Regions from separate parts of the Homo sapiens genome. Here regions 1, 2 and 4 are each linked to region 3. Evidence: fine-mapped expression QTL. A gene starts in region 3. Each other region holds a variant in brackets. All regions are shown on one strand. Distances are from middle to middle. Region 1 holds the start of HECTD2-AS1 (HECTD2 antisense RNA 1). Region 2 overlaps HECTD2 (HECT domain E3 ubiquitin protein ligase 2). Region 3 holds the start of HECTD2 (HECT domain E3 ubiquitin protein ligase 2). Region 4 overlaps HECTD2 (HECT domain E3 ubiquitin protein ligase 2).

The links. PIP is the estimated chance that this variant, and not a neighbour inherited with it, causes the effect.
Region 1: its variant is fine-mapped to the expression of HECTD2 in skeletal muscle (GTEx, PIP above 0.99).
Region 2: its variant is fine-mapped to the expression of HECTD2 in blood mononuclear cells (TOPMed, PIP 0.94).
Region 4: its variant is fine-mapped to the expression of HECTD2 in whole blood (TOPMed, PIP above 0.99). The same link has a PIP of 0.9 or more in blood mononuclear cells.

What each region holds. Positions count from the first base shown.
Region 1 is chr10:91,608,732-91,614,575 of GRCh38, forward strand. HECTD2-AS1 (HECTD2 antisense RNA 1) reads right to left here and starts at 2,729. Exons shown (of 5, transcript NR_024467.1): 1 at 2,620-2,729. The variant G/T (reference allele first, on the strand shown) is at 2,750.
Region 2 is chr10:91,500,692-91,506,535 of GRCh38, forward strand. HECTD2 (HECT domain E3 ubiquitin protein ligase 2) reads left to right here. Exons shown (of 21, transcript NM_182765.6): 20 at 500-643. All of the region lies in intron 3 of HECTD2-AS1 (HECTD2 antisense RNA 1), which reads right to left. Among named protein-coding and RNA genes, the nearest start is that of HECTD2, 93 kb to the left of the region's middle. The variant C/T (reference allele first, on the strand shown) is at 2,937.
Region 3 is chr10:91,407,296-91,413,139 of GRCh38, forward strand. It overlaps HECTD2 (HECT domain E3 ubiquitin protein ligase 2), which reads left to right and starts at 3,049. Exons shown (of 21, transcript NM_182765.6): 1 at 3,049-3,281. The coding sequence starts at 3,144. The region is part of intron 3 of HECTD2-AS1 (HECTD2 antisense RNA 1); the gene reads right to left. RefSeq lists an enhancer at 2,456-2,665 and a silencer at 2,816-3,405.
Region 4 is chr10:91,488,179-91,494,022 of GRCh38, forward strand. It overlaps HECTD2 (HECT domain E3 ubiquitin protein ligase 2), which reads left to right. Exons shown (of 21, transcript NM_182765.6): 12 at 3,022-3,129; 13 at 4,174-4,306; 14 at 5,242-5,330. The region is part of intron 3 of HECTD2-AS1 (HECTD2 antisense RNA 1); the gene reads right to left. Among named protein-coding and RNA genes, the nearest start is that of HECTD2, 81 kb to the left of the region's middle. The variant C/T (reference allele first, on the strand shown) is at 2,755.

The DNA of each region.
Region 1 (5,844 bases), 200 kb after region 3:
TTTATTTGGAAAGGAAACAAGTCTTGACATTCTGTTTCTCCCATTTCATTAAGGACAGAGGTCATCCCAGGAAGGGGAAGGGTAGTTTCCAAAGAGAACTTGTGAGGGAGTGGAGGTGGGGCAGGGGACGCTCTCGTCCCTTCTCGTTAGCCCACTTTACCCTTTGAAGAGAACAAGCCCAGCTTTCACAGTGAATTATTTGCAGGGTGGCTTCTGCCAGGACTGGGCTCTCGCTAGCTGAGGCAATACCCGGAAGGATTACATGATAGCTCAAGGACAGACAAGGTGTCCAGAAGGAACTGGCCGGAGGAGGTGACACTGAGACAGCCTGGAGATAAGGGGGTAGAAAAGGGAGAAGGGAGGAGGTAGGGGGTGTGTGTTAAATAGAAACTCAGAAAAAGCTAAACCTGTACATTTCTCTCTCTCTCTCTCTCTCTCTGTCTCTCTGTCTCTCTCTCTCTCTCTCTCTCTCACACACACACACACACACACACACACACACACACAGGCATGCACAGAAACACATTCTTTGCTTTCCCTCCCCATCTGTAACTCCCCAAGGCATTTCTATAAATAAACGATAGGCCCCTGAGCCTGCAATAGGACCATTATTAACTCTTGCAGTGTTCTGGCTATAAGTGTGTGAACACTTTTCCTCACTTCATGGTTTGCAAAGCCTTTTCCCATATGTAATCTCCACCTGACTCCTACATCACACACTTGAAAAGTCCTTTAGCTTCTCCTCATCATTCCCATATATAGAATTGGGCACCCCACACCCACACTCTCAAAGTTCTTAGCCTTAAAGCTGTAAGTTTCAAGTTGGCTACTCCAAAAATTTCTTATGGTTTGAGCCACATTATCTATTTTCAAAATTATCAAATATTGTACATATTTATGGGGTACAATGTGATATTTCGATATATGTATACATTGTAGAATGATCAAATCAAGCTAATTTAACAGGCTCATCAACTCACATACTTACGATTTCTTTGTGATGAGAACATTTAAAATCTATCTTTTAGCAATTTTGAAATATGCAATATATTATTATTAACTATAGCCACCATGCTGTGCAACAGATCCCCAGAACTGACTCCTCCTGTCTAAAAATGAAACTTCGTACACCTTGACCAACATTTCCCCATTCCCTATCTGCCCCCACCTATCAGCCTCTTATAACTACCATTCTACTCTCTACTTCCATGAGTTTGAAGTTTTTAGATTTCACATTCTAAGTGAGATCACATAGGATCTATCTTTCTGTGCCTGGCTTATTTCACTTAGCATGATGTCCTCCAGGTTAATTCATGTTGTCATCACAAATAACAGAATTTTCTTCTATCTTAAGGATGAATAGTATTTTGTTGTGTATATATACTAAAATTTTTATCCATTCATCTATTGATGGTCACTTAGGTTATTTCCATATCTTGGGTATTGTGAATAATGCTGCAATTCACATGGGAGTGCAGATATCTCTTCAACGTATTGATTTCAATTCATTTGGATGTACACCCAGAAGTGGGATTGCTGGATCATATGGTAGTTCTATTTTCCATTTTTTCGGGAACCATCATACCGCTTTCCAAAATGGCTGTACTAATTTACATTCTCACCAACAGTGTACAAGAGTTCCCTTTAATCCAGAGGCCTTTACATGCATAATGTCACTTAAATTCCACAAGAATCCTGAAGGGTAAACATGATCAAGGCATGTCAGAGGAGGAAAGTGAAGCTCTAATGTTACGTTATGTGACAGGAGTGTAGAGTATGGGGTGCAGTGTCTTGAACCCAGGTCTGTATAGCTATAGTGCACGTGTTCTTCACTCCTGCCCTGAGGTCCTCTTCCTAAAAGTTCTTTATCATCTAAGATTCCAGAGCATCTACCGGGGGGTTTAGTCAGACATCTGGAATGCCAGGATTCATAACCAATTAAGCTTCCCCATGCCTATAGTGGTGTCTTTTACTTTTCACTTCAACATTTATTTTGCCAGACTCCATACTAGGTAAAGTGGGTAAAGCAGTCAATAAGACACACATGTCCTGCTCTCATAGAACTTAAAGTCTGATTAAAAGAGACGATTCATAAATGCACACACAATTAAATAAATGGACCAATTTGCCAAGAAGCTTCAAATCCACAGAGAATAAACACAATGTAGTTTTCATTTTTTTCCACTATCCTTGACTTGCTATGTCAAATCATCTCCTCCTCTTTCCCCCCCTTTAAAATATCTCACAGTTTCCATTACTTCCTGTCACTTTCAGCTATTCAGTTTAGTCAAGACCAGTTTAAACCTCCATCTCAGATCTGATCCCAAGCCCTCTGCCCTCCCAGAGTAGCCAAGACTTGCTGCCACTGGGGCTTGGCATAGATCCAGGTGGGTCTGCTCTGTCTCTGTTCTCACCTCTCTACCCACCTCATCAGGATGTAGTTCCCTCCATGGCAGGGGTGGGAAGGGGAAGGGGTGTTTGAGCTCTTCCTCCCCAGGCCCCAGCCCTTGCCACTTGTAGCCCACCTCACAAACTCTTGTTGCTTGGAGACCCTCATCCAGAGGGTGGCTATCTTCGGGGGGCAGAGGGGGGCACAGCAAGTCAGCCCAGGCCCAGTACCTTCCTCAGCATTCTTTTGACGCGTGGGAAATCTAACCATCCTGCTGAGCCAAGCTGTGGGAAGGAGCCTGTGCCATGGCCACACCGTATTTCAGCCCTGCCTTCTCTCTCCAATGTTTCTCTTCTCCTG[G/T]GACAGGGCTGACAGCAGGACTGCTGCCCAGGCAGATGTCTAGCCAGTAAACATGACATTAGTGATCCCCTTAGCACCCCCAACTCTCCTTTGGCTTGGAGGAGGGAAAACCCCTGTTCCTGGTCCTGCTCCTGGGAATATGCTCACAAGGAACTCTGTACCTCCTCCAGGCTGAAAACTCTGAGCCCCTTATTCCAGCCCAGACTTCTCCTTACAGACCCAGGACAGGGGCAGGGTTGGTGGTATTAAGGCCAGTTCTGCCACTGCATTGCTGAAGGCTGGTTAAGAGCTCTCTTTAGAAAACCAGAGTGCTTAGCACTTTCTGGGTCACCTTTGGGCAATGGCAGCCATTCCAAGACAACAGAACAAAATCTCACTCACACCCTATTACATAGAATTCTAATTGTGAGATGTGTGAGAAAGGAAAAGAACAGGGTGCTATGAGAGGAAATGCCCATGCTCAGGATCACACTTCTGGATCTCAAATCCCAGCTCTGCCCCTTATTAACTGTGTGATCTTGGGCAGGTTACTTCGCCTCTCTGTGCCTCAGCTTCCTTATTTGTAAAATGGTGATGATAACAGTACATACCTCATAGGACGAAATGAGAAAATGTAAACAAAACTCTTAACATAGCGCCTGTCACATTAATAAATGCTCAGTAAACGTAAGTTCCCTGAGGGATCCAGGCACCTCACAGGCACCCAACAACACTTGATGAAATAATGAATGAGGTAGTGAGACCCCATCTCTACAAAAAATTAAAAATTAGCCAAATATGGTGGCACATGCCTATAGTTCCAACTACCTGGGAAGCTGAGGTAGGAGGATCACTTGAGCCCAAGAGGTTGAGGCTGCAGTGAGCTGTGATCATGCTACTGTACTCCAGCCTGGGCAACAGAGCAAGACTCTGCCAAAAAAAAAAAAAAAAAAAAAAACACAGAATTACACTTACACATAGATTTTCTTTCTTTCTTTTTTTTTTTTTTTTTTTTGAGTTGGAGTCTCGCTCTGTCGCCCAGGCTGGAATGCAGTGGCGCGATCTCGGCTCACTGCAAGCTCCGCTTCCCGTGTTCACGCCATTCTCCTGCCTCAGCCTCCTGAGTAGCTGCGACTACAGGCGCCTGCCACAGCGCCCGGCTAATTTTTTTTGTATTTTTTTTAGTAGAGACGGGGTTTCACCGTGTTAGCCAGGATGGTCTCAATCTCCTGACCTCGTGATCCCCCTGCCTCGGCCTCCCAAAGTGCTGGGATTACAGGCGTGAGCCACCGTGCCCGGCCTACACATAGATTTTCAATCCATATTAGAAAGGCTAACAAGGGCCATATTATGTGTAGTTTGAGAAAAGAGAGGGCAGGAATATATCTTACTTCTGTAGATTCAGTGCCTACCACGTAGTAGAAGCTCAGTCAATCTTTTTTTTTTTTTTTGCGTTGAACTGAAAATAATTATGTTATGCTGAAATCCCTCCCATGGAACCCAGGGGATATTGGTGAAATTAAACCACATAAAACTTGAGTAGTGTTAATGTTTTGTTCATAACTTTCATGAATTTTGCATATATTTCATGGCATTTACATTAAATTCATAAATAAAATCTTAAAAAATAATAATGAATGAGGGAGAATGGCTGGGAATACCTATTTTAGATGGGGTAGTCAGAGAAGACCACTCTGAGAAGGTGACACTTAAGCTTTGACATAGATGATAAGACAGAAGTCAGCTGAAGAGCAAAGGGATCATATTGCCCTGGAATCAGATTACAGAATAGACCTAGAAAATTCGCCTTTGACATTTTAATACCATGTATAAATACAGGGTTATAAGATATTATTCCCTCTGGACCAAAGATTGTCATAACACCCAGGAGCCAAAGTCCTCCAGATACCTCTGTCTCCATCACAGCAGCTCTAACTGTGCAGTTATTTGCCACCAAGGCAGTTCCTTTGGGGGTTTCTTTCCATTTTTTTAAAGTTGTTAGTCAGGACTTTGGTAGCAATGAGCTCAAGATCCTGGCTAGATGGTAAGTCAGATTTCACATGATCTAAACAGTCAGAGCCAGAGAGTGTCAGCTACCACAAGGAAGAGAGTATATCATAAATCCAGAGTAGACATATGAACAAGCAGTTTATAGACTGGGCTTACCCAAAGATTAATTTTGAAGGTCATATCATCCAACAGAGTACATAACTGGACACTTGAGTCTGTGCATGTCTCTGGTTACAGCTGGTTTTAGTTACTTTGAGTCTGGTCAGCATTATAAATGGTCAGCATTATAAATGGCTGGGATAAAGTATCTGCCGGAGGAATTGGCATAAGCATGTGACTCACCAGCCCCTCTGACTCATGGGACACACAGTTGTCCTGAGCTATTAATCCATTGACAGAGCATGAGTGAGACAGAGGGGCTGTGAGAAGCTGTACTGACAAATAGCCGGAAGCACCCACTGCCCATCGTTATGACTGTATCCTTTTGTGATATGGAGCATCGATATCTTTTGTTGCTGTGATAGGAAGTTTTTGGCATAGGTGTGGCCTGATCATTGTTTTCAAGCACACTAAACCTAGATGGTGATATAATGGAATTGTTGACACTGTTCCCAAGACAGCAGGATGTCTCCACCCTGGTTTGATGGTGTTCATTTAGATAAATAAGGGCTGGGATACTGTGCTAGGAGTCAGAAAGGCAGTGTGGTGTAGGTGCCTATTGTTGTAGGTGGTGGTATCAGCAAGGGGAGTTCATTACATGGTGCCAATTAGAATGTCCAAGGAGGTTGGTTTCCATGTTAAATAGGATTGACCTTTCTGTCACCCAGAAGCCCAAGTGTAAGCACTAAGAATCTAGAGAATAGCTGATCCTTCACAGAAACACCTAAGGATTTGGCTTTATTTCCGTGTCTGCAACAGCAGTGAGAGCCCAATGGAATGTTAGACTCAACTTGATGCAATCTGGCATCTCAAAATCGTAAAGAAGGTTTGAAACAACACATAAAAATGAACTACTGTCATGAATTCAAACCACATCCTAAAGGCTGCCAGAACAATGCTTTCAAATCCCAGATGTTCCAAAACAATTTATTATTCTTAAAGGTTAT
Region 2 (5,844 bases), 93 kb after region 3:
AACTTACAATCTTTGAATCAATTAAGTTAGTCAAAATATTAGAGAGTCCCACAGTCTTATTTTATCTCTGGAAAGTCTATGAGAATTTTAATATGAAATCACTCCCTTTGGGAGAAAATTCTATAAGCAAGTTTCTACAAAAGTGTAGAGATTTTACTTTTAAAAAAATGACTTTGCTCCTAGAATTTCATGGATGCTATCCTTGTAAATAACAGTTTAATAGCACTATGTTGAAAAATAAGACTTGAAAGTTATGCAGGAGAAAAATGGTTCCTGTACTATCCACTGCTGAACTTATATACTTTTATAAAAATATTATTTTATAATGTTAGTCAAAAGTCTAATACGTATATAGAAGCTCACCATTCCTTAATTTTACAGAAATTCAGGATATTATGTATGCTTAAGGAAAGTCCTTTCCTTAGAGCTTCCTTTATATTACTTTATTATAGGATTTTTGTCAAGACATTTGATGTTAATTTCCTTTGGTATTCTCTAGATACTTTTGGGATGTTGTGCTTGGATTTCCTCTTGATCTTCAAAAGAAGTTGCTACATTTTACTACAGGGAGTGACAGAGTACCTGTAGGAGGGATGGCTGATTTGAACTTTAAAATCTCAAAGAATGAAACTTCTACTAACTGGTAAATTTCTGGATCTAATTTTATTTTAAATCTAAAGGTTACTGCTAATACTGCTAATGATAATACATTTGGAATCAGGATGTGTACTCCGTTTGAAGTTATTTTCATAGAAAAATCTTCAGAGTAAACATGGCCTTGAAATGTAAGAGATTTTGATTAAAAGTTCTCTTACTAGTTTTTGAGACATACTAACTAATAATTCATTTCTAACAACTTTTTACTTTGCTAGGTCATATAAGTGCTTTGTAGACTCTTTTAGAACCTAGTTACTTTGTAGTAGTAGATTGTCTAATGTTCATTTTTATTTAAATGTGAAATGTGTTTTTTATTTTTAGGAAAATCATTAAGTTGGGATATCTGGTTTGTTTGTGGAGTTTTCTTTCTTTTCTAGGGGGTTGGGGGATACTATAATTATTACCAGAAGTACCTCTAATACTAATCCTCTTTTTTTTTTTAATCTCATGCTTTTTGTATATGAAGTGATGGTGATGATGGATTTAAATTATTTTCTAGCAGTGTTAATGCATTAATGCTTATCAACTTACTCCTTTTCCCAAATAACTTATAATTTCTAAAGCTAACTTGAATAGACATAACTTTGATTATAATCATTTTTGTCTCCTGCCCCATACATTGAACATTCCCTAAGTGCTCTTAGTTCTTCCTTTCATTTTAAAGCTGGAATCTGTTCTTTGCTTTTCCACTGCCTCTACCTTGGTAAAGTTACTTTTTATCTTCATTACTAGCTTATTTTATCCTATTAAACTCATGTGCTTTAACACTATTTAGATCATATTTCCGTGGGAAATAACTTTATTGCCAGTTTAAGTTCTAGAATCCAGAGACTGTAAAATAAAGCTCTAGTCTTCTACCCCAGGCTATCTACCAGTTTTCATTTCTTTCTATGCTTTAGTCAACAGGCTGTTTGCTGGTTCCTTAGATATATTTTATGCCTTTCTTCCTCCATGCTTTCAAGTTGTTCCCTTTACATGTGATGTGCCAGCTATGACTATTAAAGACACAGTTTAATGTTGACTTCCTCTGTAAAGCCAAAAGTCATTATGTATTGAGTTTCTCAAATATCTTGTAGAAGTTATGTGCTAGTTACCATGTTGCACTTTATATCTGAGTCATTTAGTTCTTCAAGAAAGAGGTTATGCCTTATACATATTTGTATGCTCCAAGTAATCACACATGGTAAGTGCCCAATAGCTATTTCTTCAATAGTATTTATGTCATCATCAAGATTATATTTAAAACACAAAATAAATATTTACATATATAATTAAATTTCTAAACAAAATTTACAATTAAAGTCCTAAAATGAAAAAATTCAAGAGGATTTTTTTAGATTATAGATTTTTTGCATAACAGAAGTTAATTTTTCAGAATATTTTATTTTATATTAAAAACATTTCCAATTTTAAAAGAGTAATCTGAGCAATCTGTTTTAATACAAAGGTGACATTACTTCTAAACTTTCCCAATAATTATTATTATTTCAAGAATATGTGAGCTAACATGGCTTCAACATGAATCTAGAACCTCTAGGATTCCCAGTGGAATCTCACATATATTAAATAAAGCTGACTATCAAAGACATACAACATTTCAATTTGACATAATAATGGTATGCCTCAAAAGACAAGGACAACACTCCAGCTGAAAGAGGAGTTTCCATTCATCTTATAAGGTCCACCATTGAATATTCATTCACTAGATTTTTGTTAAATAAGAATGGTAATTCCATTAAAAGGTGGGCAAAGGACATGAACAGACACTTTTCAAAAGAAGGCAACATGCAGCCAATAAGCATATGAAAAAATGCTCAACATCACTAATCATTAGAGAAATGCAAATCAAAACCACAATGAGATACCATCTCACAGCGGTCAGAATGGCTATTGTTATATTAAAAAGTCAAAAAATGAGGGAGGAGCCAAGATGGCCGAATAGGAACAGCTCCAGTCTACAGCTCCCAGCCTGAGCGACGCAGAAGATGGGTGATTTCTGCATTTCCATCTGAGGTACCGGGTTCATCTCACTAGGGAGTGCCAGACAGTGGGCGCAGGTCAGTGGGTGCGCACACCGTGCGCGAGCCGAAGCAGGGCGAGGCATTGCCTCACTCGGGAAGCGCAAGGGGTCAGGGAGTTCCCTTTCCTAATCAAAGAAAGGGGTGACGGACAGCACCTGGAAAATCGGGTCACTCCCACCCGAATACTGCGCTTTTCCGACGGGCTTAAAAAACGGTGCACCACGAGATTATATCCCGCACTTGGCTCGGAGGGTCCTA[C/T]CCCACGGAGTCTCGCTGATGGCTAGCGCAGCAGTCTGAGATCAAACTGCAAGGCGGCAGCGAGGCTGGGGGAGGGGCGCCCACCATTGCCCAGGCTTGCTTAGGTAAACGAAGCAGCCAGGAAGCTCGAACTGGGTGGAACCCACCACAGCTCAAGGAGGCCTGCCTGCCTCTGTAGGCTCCACCTCTGGGGGCAGGGCACAGACAAACAAAAAGACAGCAGTAACCTCTGCAGACTTAAATGTCCCTGTCTGACAGCTTTGAAGAGAGCAGGGGTTCTCCTAGTACGCAGCTGGAGATCTGAGAACAGGCAGACTGCCGCCTCAAGTGGGTCCCTGACACCTGACCCCCGAGCAGCCTAACTGGGAGGCACCCTCCAGCAGGGGCACACTGACACCTCACACTGCAGGGTACTCCAACAGACCTGCACCTGAGGGTCCTGTCTGTTAGAAGGAAAACTAACAAACAGAAAGGACATCCACACCAAAAACCCATCTGTACATCACCATCATCAAAGACCAAAAGTAGATAAAACCACAAAGATGGGGAAAAAACAGAGCAGAAAAACTGGAAACTCTAAAAATCAGAGCGCCTCTCCTCCTCCAAAGGAACGCAGCTCCTCACCAGCAACAGAACAAAGCTGGACGGAGAATGACTTTGACAAGCTGAGAGAAGAAGGCTTCAGATGATCAAATTACTCTGAGCTACGGGAGGACATTCAAACCAAAGGCAAAGAAGTTGAAAACTTTGAAAAAAATTTAGAAGAATGTATAACTAGAATAACCAATACAGAGAAGTGCTTAAAGGAGCTGATGGAGCTGAAAACCAAGGCTCGAGAACCACGTGAAGAATGCAGAAGCCTCAGGAGCCAATGCGATAAACTGGAAGAAAGGGTATCAGCAATGGAAGATGAAATGAATGAAATGAAGCGAGAAGGAAAGTTTAGAGAAAAAAGAATAAAAAGAAACGAGCAAAGCCTCCAAGAAATATGGGACTATGTGAAAAGACCAAATCTACGTCTGATTGGTGTACCTGAAAGTGACGGGGAGAATGGAACCAAGTTGGAAAACACTCTGCAGGATATTATCCAGGAGAACTTCCCCAATCTAGCAAGGCAGGCCAACATTCAGATTCAGGAAATACAGAGAACACCACAAAGATACTCCTCGAGAAGAGCAACTCCAAGACACATAATTGTCAGATTCACCAAAGTTGAAATGAAGGAAAAAATGTTAAGGGCAGCCAGAGAGAAAGGTCGGTTTACCCTCAAAGAGAAGCCCATCAGACTAACAGCGGATCTCTTGGCAGAAACCCTACAAGCCAGAAGAGAGTGGGGACCAATATTCAACATTCTTAAAGAATTTTCAACCCAGAATTTCATATCCAGCCAAACTAAGCTTCATAAGTGAAGAAGAAATAAAATACTTTACAGACAAGCAAATGCTGAGAGATTTTGTCACCACCAGGCCTGCCCTAAAAGAGCTCCTGAAGGAAGCACTAAACATGGAAAGGAACAACCGGTACCAGCCGCTGCAAAATCATGCCAAAATGTAAAGACCATCGAGACTAGGAAGAAACTGCATCAACTAACGAGCAAAGTAACCAGCTAACATCATAATGACAGGATCAAATTCACACATAACACTATTAACTTTAAATGTAAATGGACTAAATGCTCCAATTAAAAGACACAGACTGGCAAATTGGATAAAGAGTCAAGACCCATCAGTGTGCTGTATTCAGGAAACCCATCTCACATGCAGGGACACACATAGGCTCAAAATAAAGGGATGGAGGAAGATCTACCAAGCAAATGGAAAACAAAAAAAGGCAGGGGTTGCAATCCTAGTCTCTGATAAAACAGACTTTAAACCAACAAAGATCAAAAGAGACAAAGAAGGCCATTACATAGTGGTAAAGGGATCAATTCAACAAGAAGAGCTAACTATCCTAAATATATATGCACCCAATACAGGAGCACCCAGATTCATAAAGCAAGTCCTGAGTGACCTACAAAGAGACTTAGACTCCCACACATTAATAATGGGAGACTTTAACACCCCACTGTCAACATTAGACAGATCAACGAGACAGAAAGTCAACAAGGATACCCAGGAATTGAACTCAGCTCCACACCAAGCAGACCTAATAGACATCTACAGAACTCTCCACCCCAAATCAACAGAATATACATTTTTTTCAGCACCACACCACACCTATTCCAAAATTGACCACATACTTGGAAGTAAAGCTCTCCTCAGCAAATGTAAAAGAACAGACACTATAACAAACTATCTCTCAGACCACAGTGCAATCAAACTAGAACTCAGGATTAAGAATCTCACTCAAAGCCACTCAACTACATGGAAACTGAACAACCTGCTCCTGAATGACTACTGGGTACATAACGAAATGAAGGCAGAAATAAAGATGTTCTTTGAAACCAACGAGAACAAAGATACAACATACCAGAATCTCTGGGACACATTCAAAGCAGTGTGTAGAGGGAAATTTATAGCACTAAATGCCCACAAGAGAAAGCAGGAAAGATCCAAAATTGACACCCTAACATCACAATTAAAAGAACTAGAAAAGCAAGAGCAAACACATTCAAAAGCTAGCAGAAGGCAAGAAATAACTAAAATCAGAGCAGAACTGAAGGAAATAGAGACACAGAAAACCCTTCAATAAACTAATGAATCCAGGAGCTGGTTTTTTGAAAGGATCAACAAAATTGATAGACCGCTAGCAAGACTAATAAAGAAAAAAAGAGAGAAGAATCAAATAGATGCAATAAAAAATGATAAAGGGGATATCACCACTGATCCCACAGAAATACAAACTACCATCAGAGAATACTACAAACACCTCTACGCAAATAAACTAGAAAATCTAGAAGAAATGGATA
Region 3 (5,844 bases):
AGTGAGCCACCTGCCTTGGCCTCCCAAAGTCTTAGGATTACAGGCATGAGCCACCACACCCAGCCAAGTTATTTTTTAAATAGTAATTTTAAAAATCCACAACCATTATACCTAAGAAAGAGTTCTAAAAATCTTTTTAACAAGGTCAACATGGCTAAAATAATTTCCCCAAGTTTACTTTAGGACAACATTCAGTTGAAATATTAAAATAAGTTGCACTATTTCATAGCTATACCTTCTAAAATTAAGGTATTAGTGGTATAAACCATTCTAAAATGACCTGTGCACCTATTTTGCTATTGTTCACTACATTAGTATTACTATACATAATTAAAATAGAAGTTATCTATAATTTCGACCTTCCATTACCTTGTAATTTTGTCTTTCTTTTTCTTCCAGGGAAATAATGAGTTCTCTAACCCTCACTCCCACCCTGCCAAACCCTATTCCCCATAGGTATAATTAATGAGCTCAGGTCTTCCATCTGGACTTAGAAACATGAAATGCTTCTTCTGCCTCGCTCCTAGTTTTTCCAAAGCGAATGAGTTTATACTTGGATACCCTCACTGTTGCACGTCTGACACTTGGCATAGCTAAAAAGCATCTTCTCCACACCTCTGTACAGAATGGCCAGAGCTCTCTGTATGTCCTGCTTTACAACACTCTCTTCTCCCACCTGGGTCTCCAGAAGCACACTGATGGCAGTTGGGAATGTGTCTCTCAAGCACACCACGAGTTCCCCCAGAGCTATAATTCTACAGCTTTCCAGCAGGCCCCATTCCCATTCTCCAGCCCCCTCCTGGACTATGTATGAGGGAGGGATGAGGTGGTGGATTGAGGACATTTATTTAATAAGAAGTCAAAGGAAACATGAACAAATTATCATTTTTTACATGGAACTCACAAGCTAATTAATCAGAGAATTTGTTAAGAAATGGGTTATCTACTCTGGTGCAGTAGCAGAAATTAACATTTTTGACTTGCCTTGTTTTGCCAATATTTAAGCAGTTTGTTCTATTGAATGTGACTACATGTACAGACACACTTTTATTTAGTCTCACACATGAAAAAAGAAAGCAGAAGGCCTGTTATCCAAGTGGTTTCTCATCCAAACATTTTTATAGCAAATTACTAAATCTAGTTGAAAACAATAGGAAAGAGGATACTTTTCCCTCTAGTATTTGTTCTATCAACCTAGACTTAGCACAGAATATCTGAAATTGCAGCTAAAATAAAGGCTTCATTTTATAAAATAACATTTGAGTTGTTCCTGTATCCATGATCAGCATACAGACCTGCTAAAAGCAGAAAATAATGTTATGTTCCTCTCTATGGGATGAGTATTTCAGTAGTTTTAAGGAAAGAAAATCCTGAAAAAGAATTTAGAAAAATATTAATAGAAAGGAGGAGGATGCTTCAAAGTAATGCCGACATACATCATTTTCCCTCCAAGGCTATTAGCACTGAAATACTTTTTGCTGACTATATGGCACTTATTCTATACCTTTTGTTAATTAACAAGTAAATAGGTGGCAACAGCAACTATATTAAAGTAGAAAGCCTTTCTATAAATGAAAGTCAGAATTCAAAATTTAGAAGGCAACATTGTTTGCTTCAGATCTACTTGTTACAAATTGTGGGTTTGAAAACATGCAACCTTATCTCATGATGCACCATAACTAGTATTTAGTTATACTAATAACTCCAAATTATGTAAACAATAGATACCCCGAAATCATATTTGGGTTTGTTTCAGAGATATTTTTGGTTCTTATATTTGGACTTAGGTACTCTTGATCTAAAAATTCACTCAACCTCCAATAAAATAATGAAGGCACAGATAAAAAATCTGATAGAGCTGAATATCGAAATTCCTTGCTTTTAACAGGCGATACAGCGCATTCTTACTCTCTTTTCTCCTAGATCAGCAGGTGTCCCCGCCGCTCCAGTAGACTGAGAAAAAGGAAAAGGAGGGGGCGACAAGAAAGGAAAGGAAATTGTCTAGGTGTCCTGGTGGTGGAGGTGGGGGGTATTTTAATTTCATAATTAAAAGCTCTCTTCTTCGGCTTTCAAGTTTTTACTCCTATTTGTAATGATTTGATTGAGGACTGTGCAGCAGAGTTTGGGTATGTACATCTCTAACATAAACGGAAAGGAACAAGGAAGGGACGGATAGGAGACAGCAAAGGGTTGCGGGGAGAGAGCAAAACGTAGGCGCGTGGGGACGGGAAGGGAGAGGCGGATTTGGCAGTCAAAGAGGGACGAGAGGAACAGGAATGGAAAGTGTGGACTGGCCGTCCAATCCTATGGGGGAAGGGGAAAGGGGGGGCCCACCACGTCGCACTCCTCCCCACCTCCAGGCTTTTCCTGTGTAGGCTGAAGCCATCCAGGCGTGTACAAAAGAGTCGGTTGCTGAGCCAGGAAGGCTGTCTCCCCGGGCTGCGCAAGCTCCGGGCCGCCTCTCCTGGGCTCAGGAGGGCGGGCAAGGATAAGAAGGCAGAAGCCCCAAGGCGGACAGCTTTGTGGGCGCCTGGAAGAAGGCGAAAGGCCACCAGCCCAGACCCCGAGGGCGCTTGCCCGCGGGACTCGGCGCCGCAGGCCAGGGCCGTCCGTGAAGGGTAGTCTGTGCCTACGTCCTGCCCTACTGGTACCACTCGGACACTCTATCCCCGTCCGACCCTTTGCAGGGCTCGACTTGTCTCCCCGACTGCCCGTCCTTAGTCCAGGTTCTCCTGCGCGGCCCGGGTGCGGGGTCTCCTCGTCATCTCGGGCGACACTCTGCAAACAATATGGCGGTCGGGCGTCGACCGTGGCGCCTTCTCTCCGGGCCCTCGGGGTTGACGAGGGGGACTACCGCCGGCGCTCCCGACCCGCGACGCGCGAGCCCCGGGCGGGCGGGGGAGGCGAGAGCAAGAAACCTGTGGGACCTGTGGGGAGCCGCGTCCGCGGGGCTGGCGCGCGCGGGGGCGGCCTCGGGCTCGCGCGCAAAGGCGCGGGCGCGGGCGGGGGCGGAGTGGCGGCGGCAGCGGCGGCTAGAAGCGGCAGCCCAGAGCCCTCTCGCGGCCGCGGCGGCAGCAGCAGCGCCAGCCCCAGCAACACTGAGGCCGCCGCCGCCGCCTGGCGCTCCCGCCGCCCGGCCCGACATGAGTGAGGCGGTTCGGGTACCCTCGCCCGCCACTCCGCTGGTGGTGGCGGCGCCCGCGCCTGAGGAGAGGAAAGGGAAGGAGTCAGAGCGCGAGAAGCTGCCGCCCATCGTATCGGCGGGCGCCGGCGCGACCGCGGTAGGTGGTGGGCCGGGGCCGTCTGGCGCCCCGGACGGCGGGAGTTGGGAGGGACGGCGGCCGGGCGAGGGCCGTCAGGAGGCCTGCGTTTACCCTGGGCACGCCCTGGCACTCCAGGGAGACGCACTCAGGCCGCCCTTCCTTGGGCAGAAATAAAAGAGTTGTGCCTCGTGGACAGCCCCGAACACTTCGCGAGGTACACCTACCACCCTCGGGAAATGTTGGGGGTGGTCGGTTCCGCTGGATGTTTGGGTTATTTTCTGGGGCTTGGGCCCCCACTTTCTCTAAGAGAATGACCTGCATCTTGAGTCGGCATGATCTGTTGGATGAGCATAGGTGTCAGCAGGCGGGAGTGGGTTTTCCACGGAGGTGCCTGCCTGCCTGCCTGCCTTGGAGGCGCGCAGATTTTTGTCCTTTTCTTCGCTTTTCTTTCCCTTCCCCCTTCAGATTAAACAGGCTCTGCGGCGAGTTTCCACTTAATTGTGACCTTTCCGTTGCTGTCAGTGTAGTGGGAGGTAGATGCATCAGTGATGGTTTTATTTTTCATATGGTACAGACATGTGACTCAGGTGGGGGGAGGCTTTTTGAACCTTTTATTTAAACCCAAGTTATCTAAGCTTGACAGGGATGATTTCCCAGCTGTATCTTCGTAAGGGTTATTTGGAGAGCGCTGTCAGGCTTCAAACTACATATTGCCAGATGATGTCATGGGACAGCCCCCTCCCCCTCTTTCCCTATTTTTACTGGTGGTTGTGACTGGTTAATTTGAAGCACAATTTAAAAAAAAACCTCGGATTTTGCAATTTTTTATTTTGACATAATATTTAAGTACTTTTTGAAAGTTTGCTTTGATATATTTAAAGATCATGACTTGTCATGCAGCTGTGTGTGACAAAATAGTAAAAGTTTAGTGAACATTATACATTTTCTTTATTCCTACTTGCGGTTCATTTCTTAAAACCTCCCTCTTAAATGACTAAGAACTTACTAAAATAGCTCACTCTTCGTTAAGTACTGTATTGGTGTTAGGAATAATTTTCGGATTCGGTAGGTTTTTCAAAAATGTCTGAGGGCCCTGATAACTGGAAATTGTTAAAACAAGCTCTTTAAATCAATGCAGCAAATTGCGAACAGTAATGATACACGTTTAAAAGCGTAGCTACAATTGATTGGTAGATTGGAGCTGGGGTTAGGGATTACCCTAGAAAATGCTTTGAAGGAATTTGTCACCCAGCTGCTTGGAGACCTGGTTCCTGCTGCTGGTACCCTAGGTTTTCAGATTTTATATAGGAAGTCTTTAACTCACAGAATTCCAGCAGTTCATTTCTAAGTTGGTTGTTTAAAACAGTAAATGTATGTACTTATAGAAACAGTTAAATGAGTGGGTTTAGGTCCTCAAGCAAACGCTCTCCCAAAAACCTATTCATCTCATAACTGAAAAATTGCCGTTTTGGAATTTGCAAGTGTGGATACAAGTCTACAGTCTGCTTTGGGATTTCAAGTTTTTCAGATTTTAGAAAGGTAATTCGGTACATATATCATATATTATTTAATACCCACAGTAAGGTCCTAGCCAGTTCTCTCTAATCAACCATCTTAATAACTGTAATGAAATTATGTGTTCATGCTAAAGGGAAAAAGTCAGTAGCGTCATGTCATTTCAGATTAGGTGCATGTTTTTGCCACCAAATGAGTTGCAAAGACACTTCAGTTTCAAGAATTTATAGGACTTTGAAATTGTAAATAGAGGATTATGGACTTGTACTACTAGACAAAGAGAAGAATATATTCAAGAAAAAAATTTAAATCTTGAATTAAACTTTGAAAAGGTATGAGTTGGAATAGAAGAGGATAAGGATAAATATACAAAACTTGAGGGTTTTTTTTTTTTCTTTTTGAGACGGAGTCTTGCTCTGTCGCCAGGCTGAAGTGCAGTAGCCTGATCTCGGCTCACTGCAATCTCTGCCTCTCGTGTTCAAGCCATTCTCCTGCCTCAGCCTTGCTTGTGCCTTATAAAGTCTTTCAGAGTCAGTACCATTGATTATTTATTTTTTAAAAAAAAAAACAATTTATGACAGGATCTGTGGCAGAATGTGTGTGTGTGTGTGTGTGTGTGTGTATTTGTCAAAGAGAGACTTCAAAGCTAGAATTCAGAGCTAATAGCAGTGAAAAGCTTAAGTGTAGAAAATCTATGCTTGGTCCTTAGTCCATCCAAAGGATAAGAAATCCAGGAGAACTGGGGTGGTGATTGACTTTTACAGCAGCTAGGAAGGCCTTGGTATGTGTGGGGAGGGGGAGGAGGTCTTGATGTGTGAGGTAGGTGGGCAGGGAAATACAGCTTGTGGCCTCTTGAGTTGTTTTTCAGCCTCCTGTAGATTAAATAGAGCTCCTAGAGGTTTGCTTAGGAACCTAATTGTCATCAATAACTTTTTCTTTGAGACATTCCAGTGATTGTTCCTTTTTGCCCCAGCCTAATGGTTCTGCCTGTCTAGTTTGTGTCTATGACTCAATTCGTGACCCTACAATAGTGGCTTTTTCAGAAAATCATTGTACCACATTTATA
Region 4 (5,844 bases), 81 kb after region 3:
TCAGAAACAACCGAAAAATTAGAAAATGTAACAAAAAGTGTGTCTTGGAGAACTGAGAAATATGCCCAAAGAAGGTGAAAGATGTTTTATTGGTTCTTAGGAAACCAAAATGCATGGAGACCCAAAGAGGCTGGGGATAGCAAGCAGACTGAGTTTAGGCAAATTGTAGAGCAGTATGAAGTTATCTCTCAGTCTGTCCTTACCACTTCCTATCCCTTGTGTTTCAGCTCAGCACAGTAATGTACTTTATCTAATAAATATCAGATTCAGTGAGGTTTTTCTGTTAGAGCTCTAAACTATTTGTTTAAGTGCTTATGTATTTCAAACATCTGCTTGTGTTACATGATTGCTCACAATTTTAAAAGAGGGAAGCTTGGCTGTGGTCTTCTTAATTGAAAAAGGAATATAGAGTAAAAAGAAATGATTTCCATCTTGTTCAAGAGTATAAAAAGAATCCTAAAGCATAAATTGTAATACTTCAAAATGCTATAAAAAATAAGAATGTTTATTCTTCAGTAATTCAGTTCCCAGAAGGTGAGTATTTCTTTCTATCACAGAGAAGGACAAAAGATTTGAGTAACTGGTGACATCCCAAAGTCATCTTATACTGAATATGGGAATATTAGAAGAAATTTTATTGCCTATGCCCATCAAGGGAATTCCAAAGCCACACTACCCCCCTGAAGAATGAGTTTAAACAGGTATATTCAGCACCAGAATTGTTACTTGATCTTGGGTAGATATTGGCTCAATGATTAGCTGTATAGCTACTCATTCTGACATTTTCTGTTAGTTGTACTCGTACAATGTCATGTGCCTTTTTAGTATTTTTTCACCTTGGTCTATGATTTTTTTATATTTGTAAGAAAATCTACAGTGCTTTTGTACGTAACAGAATGAGCTAGTTTGTGTTAAACTAGCAAGACTAAACAGTTTTTTCTGTGTCACTCACAGGATATCAAATATCTTTTTGTGGAATTTTTCTTCTACTTTAAAGAAGGAGAATGGCAGGTGTAGACTCTGTGACAGGCTAAGTTTTCTACAGAGCATGCAAACGAATGAGTAGACACTTGACATTGAGAGCTAAGTGGCATTATCAGTTTTTTATGGGTGTTTCCCAACATTTTATCTCATAAATTGCCATATCACTTGGAATTAATGACTGATGACTATTTTGACACAAGGACAATCTTACAAATAGTCAGTGTAAGCAAGAGCTTATATGGTACAATCTAAATATACAAAATTGGTTTCCTAACCTAAAATAAGTTCCTCAGTCACAGTGTCAAGAATTGTATCATTGTTGGGTTATTTTTTCATTTGGAGCATTTTCCAGTAAATATGAATTCCTGATGGGAGGAGTAGCTACTAATCTTGTTTGCCATTAGCATCCTAGCATAAATTTGTTTATTAGTTATTTCCAATGTGACAGCTGCCCAAGAGCTAGACTGGGAACAGAAGATAGGAAAAGGTAGGAAAAAACGGTCTGTAACACAGGACACTATGCTAGGAATGCAGACTTCCTTGATAAGTGAGGACACAGAAATAAAAGGCTGTTAATAGCATTTAGCGTTGTATATAGGAGAAATGGAGAAAGCTCCAAATTAGTGTTTTATTATAGTAATCTTCAAAATTGTAAGTAGCCTTAAATTGTAGATTTGTGATACTAAAATTTTATCTATTAAAGCAAATTGCTGCATGTATTTAAAATGTCTGAAATGTTTATCTTTAATCTGCACAATAGTTTTCATTGTTACCAAAAAAAGATATAGTCTAATAAAGACTATTTAGATAAATATATAAGCCTGTGGATTTTATATGACAAATGACATATTCCTTATAGATATTTTTAAATATATTGTTTTTTACCTATTCAGTGCTTATATTTTGAAAAACGGTGACAAAAGAATTTTGAGTCACTCATATCTCTATCCCCCAAGCAAAGCCATTAACATTTTAGTAAATTTTCTTTTGATATTTGTTCTATATTATCTTTAAAAGACAACAGAGTTGAAATAGTACTGTAAACACAATTTTATTTCCTACTTTCTTCAGTGTACCTTCCTTGTACTATTTACATAGTTTTTATGACCATCCTTTTTTTCATTAGTTGTATATGTACTTAAGATATTTCTAAAGTTTTGTTTTTATAGATAATGCTGTGATAAACATTGTACTGTATAAAATATGTTCTAAGAATTCTCAGTGGAAGGATTATTGGGATAAAGGATATGAATATTGTGATGGTCTTTGATACATGTTGACAAGTCACTTTTGTAAAGTAGACTAATTGTACCTTTAAAGAAAATTCAATATCTAAAAAATCCTAAGTCCAGGTTTATCATCAGGAATATATACCTTGTTTTGAATGTTCCCATTTTATATTTGTATTTATTAAACAGAAAACTTTGCTATTTAAGAGATGAGACATGGCCGGGCGCGGTGGCTCACGCCTGTAATCCCAGCACTTTGGGAGGCCGAGGCGGGCGGATCACGAGGTCAGGAGATCGAGACCATCCTGGCTAACACGGTGAAACCCCGTCTCTACTAAAAATACAAAAAATTAGCCGGGCGTGGTGGTGGGCGCCTGTAGTCCCAGCTACTCGGGAGGCTGAGGCAGGAGAATGGCATGAACCCAAGAGGCGGAGCTTGCAGTGAGCCGGGATAGCGCCACTGCAGTCCAGCTTGGGCGAAAGAGTGAGACTCCGTCTCAAAAAAAAAAAAAAAAAAAAAAAAAAAAAGAGATGAGACATA[C/T]GGAAACTGTGATGCAACATTTTTTATTACAGAAGGTGAATTATTTTTGGTCCTCCACTTTGGATCCCCTTTGGTTATCATTGTTACAAAATGAAATAATAATAAGCCATTTTCACAAATCAAAATGTGTATAATTGATTTTTATAAAATTGTTTATATAAGAAATGGCATAGATAATAATTGTTATTTTTACTAAAGTGTTTAAATGTTTTAAATGAAATTATAGTCTAAGTAAAAGCAAAACTGTTTACTTTCTTATTTAATCAGCAAAGTCTGGTGGATAAAGTATCTCGAAGACAGAGACCTGATATGAATATATTATTTCTAAATATGAAAGTAAGACGGACACATCTGGTTAGCGATTCACTTGATGAGGTATAATTTATTCCAAAATGATATTAATTAAAGCTTAAAATTCTATAATATGATTATTATAAAAATCATAGTAAACTTTTTTATTTCTGTATGCCAATAAGTGTGCTTCCTTAAATTCTTTTGAAGATCTTGTTGCATACCAAGCTTCTGTAAAGTTTGATACCATAGTTAAAATCAGATCTGTATTCATAATTGTCTTATATTCATGTTTGTATGTTTATTAATAGTTTGTTAATTCCCTAGAAAAGGATTTGATGTAGAACACTTAAATGAGTAATTCATGTTTCTTAGTATATAACCTAGATTCCAGACCCACCTTTGTTCCTGGTTATGTGTGTAACAAGTCATTTAACTTCTCCAGGTCTCAGACTACACATCTATAAAATTAGAGGTCTGACCTACAGGGTATATTGGGTCTATACAGGTTCTAACATACTTTGATTGCATTTTCATGTATTATCATAAAAAATGCTTCAGCTAGATCTTAATATGGTTATTAGAAGATAATGGCTGATTCCGCTATGTGATTTATTTATTTATTTATTTTTGTGACAAGTTTTATTTTGTCACCTGGGCTGGAGTGTAGTGGTACAATCAAAGCTCACTGCCGCCTCAAACTCCTGGTCTCAGGGTCTCAAGCCATACTCCTACCTCAGCCTCCCAAATAGTTGGGATTACCAGCTCATGCTACCACACCCAGCCCTAGCTATGTGATTTTTTAAAGTTTAGCATTGAAGGGGAGTTTTTTTTAAAAAAAGAAATGAATTATATTGTGCTAAATTAAAAATTTGAAGGCAGTAGATACCAGGAGGTAGTACTTTGGGTGAAGTACCTGACCTCTCTAATTCTGTTTCCTGATCTATAAGACATAGTAAACACCTAGCTCACACAGTGTCTGGCAGATTTATTGGATAAATGGAGGGATGGAGTTTTGTAGCATTGCAAATAAGTTAAAGACTGCCTAACACATTTCCCAGAATTAAAAATGTTAATTCTCTTTTCACTGCTCTTTGTTCTCCTCTACTGTATAATATCTTCAAATAGCTAACCCGGAAAAGAGCCGATTTGAAAAAGAAGTTAAAAGTTACATTTGTAGGGGAAGCTGGTTTGGATATGGGTGGTTTGACTAAAGAATGGTTCCTTCTTCTAATTCGCCAAATTTTTCATCCAGATTATGGTAAGTATGTAATCTAATTTTTATAAACTGTGTTTCTTCATAATTGTTAGAGTGAAGTAGTCACCCTTATTTTTAACCTATTCTGTGATTTTACAGACTTTTTGTCCATCGTAAATGTTGAATAATTGTTTAAGGACTGTTATTTACATTTTAAAAACTTGTTTGACCGAATTGTTGATCAGTTGATTCTCTTACTGGGAATCCTACACAAAATGTATCAAGATTAAAAGTAAACATTTATGAGGAAACATCCATATCTTTTCTGAATAAGTCAAATGCATGAAAATTTAATTTGTCATTGAAATAAACATTTGAAATTAAAACACAAAACTATAGTTTGCTCTATAGTAACATTTAAAGCCTCTTTCATTAATGGGTCATTTTAATAAATAAGAATTCATGAATTAATTTTTTAAGAAAAAATAAGCCTTTGAAATTTTTTATTTTACAGAAACTACCTGTATAATCCTTACTATCTGTTAAACTTTTCAAAGGAGAATTTTCAGTGTTTTCCTTATTCTTTAGTTTTCTTTTCTATATGTGTATGTGATGGGAAATAGGGATGACAGTGATAAATTGAAGTCTCCAGATATCCTCAAAATTAATTTTGATCATAATTTATAATCTATGAAACTATACTTTTTATAAAGTTATCTGATTCATTTAGTTTCTATCTTTTTACCCTGTTTCTACCCTTGGTTCAGGAAAATAAAATGTTCTCCATATATATTTAATATATATATTTATATTTGCTGAGATTTGCAAATATATAGTCCCATAAATAATCCAAAATTTTTAACTTGAAAGATGGTTTGTAACAGAATTATTGTTGAATTGATTAGCTTCTAATAGATGAGATGTCATGTACATGTTTACCACTTTGATTTTTTTAAGTCAATCATGTTAATAATAACATTATTCGTGTGTTTTTTTAGGCATGTTTACATATCACAAGGATTCACACTGCCATTGGTTTAGCAGCTTTAAATGTGATAACTATTCTGAATTCCGATTGGTTGGAATTGTATCCTTTAAACTTTCCACTAGGAGGTGCTAATAGATTAGAGATTTTTAAAGATTTTATCTGTATTTTAGAAAACTGTTTTCTTTAGCCATTTTATCCAAATTAAATGTTATTGTCAAATGTACTATTAGATTTTCAGTAATCTTCATTATGTGTAATATATGTCAGTAGACTTAATTGAAAGAAATGAGAGTTTGATTTTTTTCTGAAAACCTTATCTCAAAATAAAAATGGTTCTTTCCTATTTCACATATAATTGAAGTTATCACTAATTTAAGGCATTTTTTAAAAAAAATCAAAGTATTTCCCATTTATAATGAAGTATTTTTTTTCTGTTCTTTCACTTTGTGCTCATTTCCCTCAGTTTACTGAATTGAAATTGGGGGAATTAAATCTAGCTCTTTAATATGCCTCCAAATCCTGAAACATAAAGGAAGCATCCATAAAAATTGAATGGAATGGGAATATTTAAAGCATATAGTATTATTTTATAGTATTTTTAAAAATTTTATAA